Regions from separate parts of the Homo sapiens genome. Here region 1 is linked to region 2. A link means that fine-mapping ties the variant in region 2 to the expression of a gene that starts in the linked region. Tissue or cell type: whole blood. Region 2 holds a variant in brackets; the other region holds the start of a gene. All regions are shown on one strand. Distances are between the middles of the regions.

Region 1 (2,607 bases), 30 kb after region 2:
TAGCTTCTTGGGCTCCTTTTAGGTTGGGGACTGAGGGGTGGAATCCCACGGGCCAAAGGCAGGGTGAGGTGGGAACAGGGGGACATTTACACTTTGGCCCAGTCTCCAGGCGGCTCCCCGCTGGCTCGCATCTTTCCAGACCTTGAGACCTACCCAGTCCCCAGCTTTAGGGAGCCCGGGATGAGAAAGAGGCAGGGGACCGGGAGGGGGTTCAGATCTAGCTGAGGACACACGCGCGTTCTGCAGTTGTAAAAGATTTCCCGGTGGGCAGGATCGTTTCCCCTCCCATCGCCCAGGTTTCCGAGCGGCCAAGAGACTGGCCCCCAAGCCACACTGCTAGGGAGCGCCGGGTGCCCGCGTCCTGGTCAGCGCTCTTCCCACCGCCAGCACGTGGGGCTCCCATTTCCTTCCTGGCTCTTGTCCGGTCCTCCAGCCAGCCCCGGCTCTAAGTCCGCGGCAGGAAGACGGACGCTGCGTGTGAACCCGCGGGGCCGGGCGGACCGGCGCCCCGAGCCAGACGGCGTCCCCAGGCGGGGGCCGGGTCCTCGCAGAACAGCTGATCGGGACCCTTATTTTGGCCACAGCCACAGTTGGGGGCGCCACCCAGTCCGTGCCTTCGACCTCGTTCTTGGCGACCCGGCCACCTGCGCCCCCCACCTGGCACCCTTGCCTTCCCTCCTCTCGCCCCTCCCCTCCCTCCTCTCGCCCCTCCCCTCTCCTCTCCCCTCCCCTCCCTCTCCTCTCCCCTCCCCTCCCTCTCCTCTCCCCTTTCCCTCTCCCCTCTCCTCTCCTCCCCTCTCCCCTCTCCTTTCCTCCCCTCTCCCCTCTCCCCTCCCTCTCCTCTGCCCACCCTCTCCTCGCCCCTCCCCTCTCCCCTCCCTCTCCCCTCCCCACCCTCTCCTCTCCCCTCCCCTCGCCCTCCTCTTCCTCGCCCCTCCCCTCCCTCTCCTCGCCCCTCCCCTCCCTCTCCTTTCCCCTCCCTCGCCTCGTTCCTCTCATCCCTCGTCTTGCCCCGCCCCTTTCTCCTCGCCCCCTTCTCCTCGCCCCTCCCCCTTCCCCTCGCCCCTCCCCTCCTCTCGCCGCTCCCCTACCTTGCCTCGCCCCTCCCCTCCCTCGTCTCGCCCCTCCCCTCTCTCCTCGCCCCTCCCTTCCTCGTCTCGCTCTTCCTCTCTCCTCCCCCTAGGCCACGCCCCCCACCGCCCCGCCCCCCGCCCCCCCAGCCCCGCTCCCCGCCCCCCCAGCCCCGCTGGGAGTGTCTGGGGGCCGCGCCCAGCTGGGTCGGGACGCGCTCCCTGAGCTGCCCGAGCTCCGCGGGGACTCGGGCCGGGATCCTCGGGCGGCTGCATTGGCCGGGGCCGGGGCCGGGAGCGGGCCATGATGGGCCGGCGGCGCGCCTTCGCCGTGGACGGCCGGGGTGAGTCACCCACCCCCAGGCTGGCCGGGCTCCCCCCTGCCCCGGAGCCGCTTCCCGCCCCCAAGCCGGGCACCCTCTCTCAGTTTCTTGCCCAGCCCCGCGCACCCCGCGGGCGGAGCCCGCGCCGCTGCGCCTCCCTCGCCGCCTCCCTGGAGGGGCGGTCATCAGGGGACGCCATGCAGGCTGGAACCCCTTTGGGCCCAGGCGTTAAACCAGCCACCGCCTCCGCCCCACTTCCTCCGGCTCCGCTTCCCTCGCCTTCCCGCTCCTTCTGAGGATGTGGGAATCCGCCCGCGCCCCAGCCCCCTCCGTGGCTGCGGACCCCTCTCCCACCCAGTGACCTCCTGGCCCACTTCCTTGCCCAGAGGGGCCTGGGTTGGCATTCGGCTCCCGCGTGCCCCGCAGCTCGTCCCCGCCCCCCTAGCCTGTTTCCCGTACCGTTCATTCCGCCAGGACGCCCCGTCGCCAGAGGGCCTGGCGGAGGTGACAGTGAGGGGGTGCTAATGCTGCCCCTTCGTCCCTTTCTTTCACTTCAGTTCTTTCATTTTAAACTTTTCATAAAATCTTCACTATTGCTCACTTACAACAAAAGCCCAAATCGGTTATAGCGGTGATTTTTATCACTCTCCCGGTGAGCTGCAGGAGAGACTTCACCTGGCATCCTGATGCCGCAGGGGCCCCCAGAGAGCAGGTTGGATCCCAGGCTTTCCTCTCTGTACCCTCTCCCCTCTCCCTGAAGCTGGATACAGTCCTACTCCCGCTTGGGGAGCAGCGGAAGAGCCTGTGGCTCCCTACTTCTGACTCGGGAGATCGTGGGCTGATCCTAGGTGGGAAGCGCAGGCGCAGGCCGTCTAAGGGATTGATGGATGTGGCCTGCCAGGGCTTTGCCTACCACACAGCTCAGAGCACGGGTTCCCTGTCGCTAACAACCGTTGCGAAGGGAATCCCATCCACACATCTCCCAGACAGCTGGGGCCATATCCGGGCTGCCCGTGGCTGTCCAGTGACCGCCCTTCCTCACTGCTCCGGGACACTTCTCCCTGGGGCAGTGCTGCCAGCCTTCAGGAATGCTGGGGGTGTTGGGGGTGGCCTGCCCAGCCTGACGCTGACTCTCCATGCAGATGGGGCTGGCGAGGGCCTGGCACGGGGCTGCATAGTGCCTGGAGTCACCAGCACCTACAGACGGATCCCCG
Region 2 (2,751 bases):
TATTCATGTTTTTCTCTCGTTTTTGTTTTCGATTTCATTGAGTTCTGCTTCTTATTTGCTTATTGTTGCTTGCTTTTGGTTTAATTTGTTATTTTTCTAAGTTTCTTAGGATGAAAGTTTAGACTATTGATTTGAAACATTTTTCCCTAGAATGCTGCTTTAACTGCATCTCACACATTTTGATTTTTCATCAACTCTTGACTGTTTTCTCATCTCGTCTGTGACTTCCTCTTTGACCCATGGGTTGGGTTGTTGTTTAATTCAGGCTCTTGTTTTGATAGGTATCATTAGGCCTCCCTTGCTTACACGATGATCCACTTGGTCCTGAAATTTCACAAAGTATATACAGTATTTCACTCCGCCAGTCGTTTCTATCTTTGTGTGAAATGGTTTATTGGCTGCTTGATTTTTATGGGCAGAGTGAAGCAAAGAGAACGTGAGGATTCTGGGCTCCGGCTGGGGTAGATGGGGAGGAAGAACCGAGACGCTGGAACCCAGGGACACCCGGTTCTCAGCAGTGAGAAAAGGGTGAATGCTCAGTTTTGGAACAGTTCCCCAAGTTCCCCTTGCTGCTTGGAACGCCTCATTTTCTTCTGTGGTCCAACTTAAACTCTCTAATTGGACTGGCTTCCATCTTTTCTCTTGGAGTTCTTCACTTCAGTAATGCCCACTCCATATATCCCTATGGAAAATTCTTCTTCCAGGGAGCGTTCCCAGACTCCTCCCCATCCTCCAGCACCCTTTGGCTGTGCCCACCCGTGGCTGCCCCCAGGGCTTGTGTCTGGTGTTTATATCTTTTCTCTGCCTAGGGGCGGGCCCACCTTCTCTTTGCTGTCTCACAGGAACCCCCAGCCTGTGCTATGTTGATGCCCAGGCCAAATCTTTCTCATGACCTTTCTTCATGCAGGTGCTGCCCGCAGATGAGATCCCTAAGCCCATCAAGCCCCCGACCTACCAGGTGCTGGAGTATGGAGAGGCTGTGGCCCAGTACACCTTCAAGGGGGACCTGGAGGTGGAGCTGTCCTTCCGCAAGGTGGGCCAGGCCGGAGACGGAGGGGTGGGTGGGGGCAGGTGAAGATGTAGGTAAATATGTGCACTAAAAACA[G/C]TTTTTTTTTTTTGAGACAGAGTCTCACTCTATCGCCAGGCTGTAGCGCAGTGGTGCCATCTCGGCTCACTGCAACCTCCGCCTCCCGGGTTCAAGCAATTCTCCTGCCTCAGCTTCCCGAGTAGCTGGGACTACAGGCACGCGCCACAACACCCAGCTAATTTTTGTATTTTTAGTAGAGACAGGGTTTCACGATGTTGGCCAGGATGGTCTCAGTCTCTTGACCTCATAATCCACCCGCCTCAGCCTCCTAAAGTGTTGGGATTACAGGCGTGAGCCACCGCGCCTGGCCTAAAAACACTTCTTTAAAAAAGAGTCCGATGTACCTAGCTTCACCCAGGATTTCAAAGTTTTCCCCAGTCTCTTTCATTATGCTTCCTTTAGTGTAGTGGCTTTTTTTTGCTTTTTTTTGAGACAGCATCTCACTATGTTGCCCGGGCTGACCTTGAACTCCTGGGCTCAAGCGATCCCCTGTCCCTGCCCCAGCCTCCCAAGTAATTTTGGTCCATTTTTAAAAGATCATCATAAACTTCTAGAGTTACATATATATTTTTTCAACTGCAGGTTGCAGGGGATCATACTCAGCATTTTTAAAGGTATAGACAGAAATGTTAGCATGCGTTGCGAGCAGAAAGCACTTTATCATACCGTAGGCAGTTCTGTGTATGCACATATATATGTATTCTGGGCTGTTATTAAAACATTTTTAACTGTAGATTGTGGTGAAACAAGTTTGAAAAATGCTGTTCTAGAAAGCAGGGAAGTGGTCTGCCTTTGGTTGATTTTGGGAGCAGTGATCATGCTCCCAAAATAAGCGAAAGACGGCCCATAGTGAATGCCTCCCAGAAGAGCTGGCCCCAGGGACAGAGGGGGAAGAAGGTGGCTGGATGGAGACAGATGGGGGCAGGAGAGGACAGGGGAAGGCAAGGGCTGGAGGCCACCCTCCCAGGGGGTGGTTCTACCTAATGTCAGCCAGCCTGTGGCCTTCAGGACTCCCTGCCTGTCCTGGGGAGTGTGTTTTTGACACGCTCATGACAAGGTCCCCCAGCGTGAGGCAGGAACAGGACCCAGGCAGGGCAGTAGTGGTAGCACCTGTCCAGTGTGTCTAAGGAGTGGACTGTTGATCTCGTTCACACCTCATAGTGACAGTATGGTTATTTTCACTTAACATAGGAGAAAACAAGGCTCAGAGAGACAGAGCAGGCTGCCTGAGGCCACACAGCTTGGCCTGGTGGAGCTGGGTTTGGATCTGTATTATTAGCCACGGGCTCACCTGTGATCGGAGCTCTGGGGAGGGACCTTGCTATGAACGCCGAAGGGGGATGCACACCCGTTGAGCTTCCAAGAGGCAGGACCCAGTCTCAGCCTCAGCCTTGCCTGGGCAGCCTGGGCTTGGCTCCTGGCTCCTGCTCTTACCGTGTGACTCGGGTAAACTGCTGGCCCCCTGCGATTCCGACCCCTCGTGTGTCCAAGGTGTTAGGGTTGAATGAGACAGCCCAGATAAGGCACCCGTGGGTCCATGGCACCAGGAAGGCCCCACAGACACTGACTTTTCCCCCCTCAGGGAGAGCACATCTGCCTGATCCGCAAGGTGAACGAGAACTGGTACGAGGGACGCATCACGGGCACGGGGCGCCAAGGCATAT

The links. PIP is the estimated chance that this variant, and not a neighbour inherited with it, causes the effect.
Region 1: it holds the start of C8orf58, and the variant in region 2 is fine-mapped to the expression of C8orf58 in whole blood (TOPMed, PIP above 0.99).

The regions. Positions count from the first base shown.
Region 1 is chr8:22,598,347-22,600,953 of GRCh38, forward strand. C8orf58 (chromosome 8 open reading frame 58) reads left to right here and starts at 1,253. Exons shown (of 7, transcript NM_001013842.3): 1 at 1,253-1,414; 2 at 2,536-2,607. The coding sequence starts at 1,375. RefSeq lists an enhancer at 1-251 and silencers at 638-697, 1,063-1,162, 1,193-1,652.
Region 2 is chr8:22,568,241-22,570,991 of GRCh38, forward strand. It overlaps SORBS3 (sorbin and SH3 domain containing 3), which reads left to right. Exons shown (of 21, transcript NM_005775.5): 17 at 908-1,033; 18 at 2,670-2,751. Among named protein-coding and RNA genes, the nearest start is that of PDLIM2, 11 kb to the right of the region's middle. The variant G/C (reference allele first, on the strand shown) is at 1,106.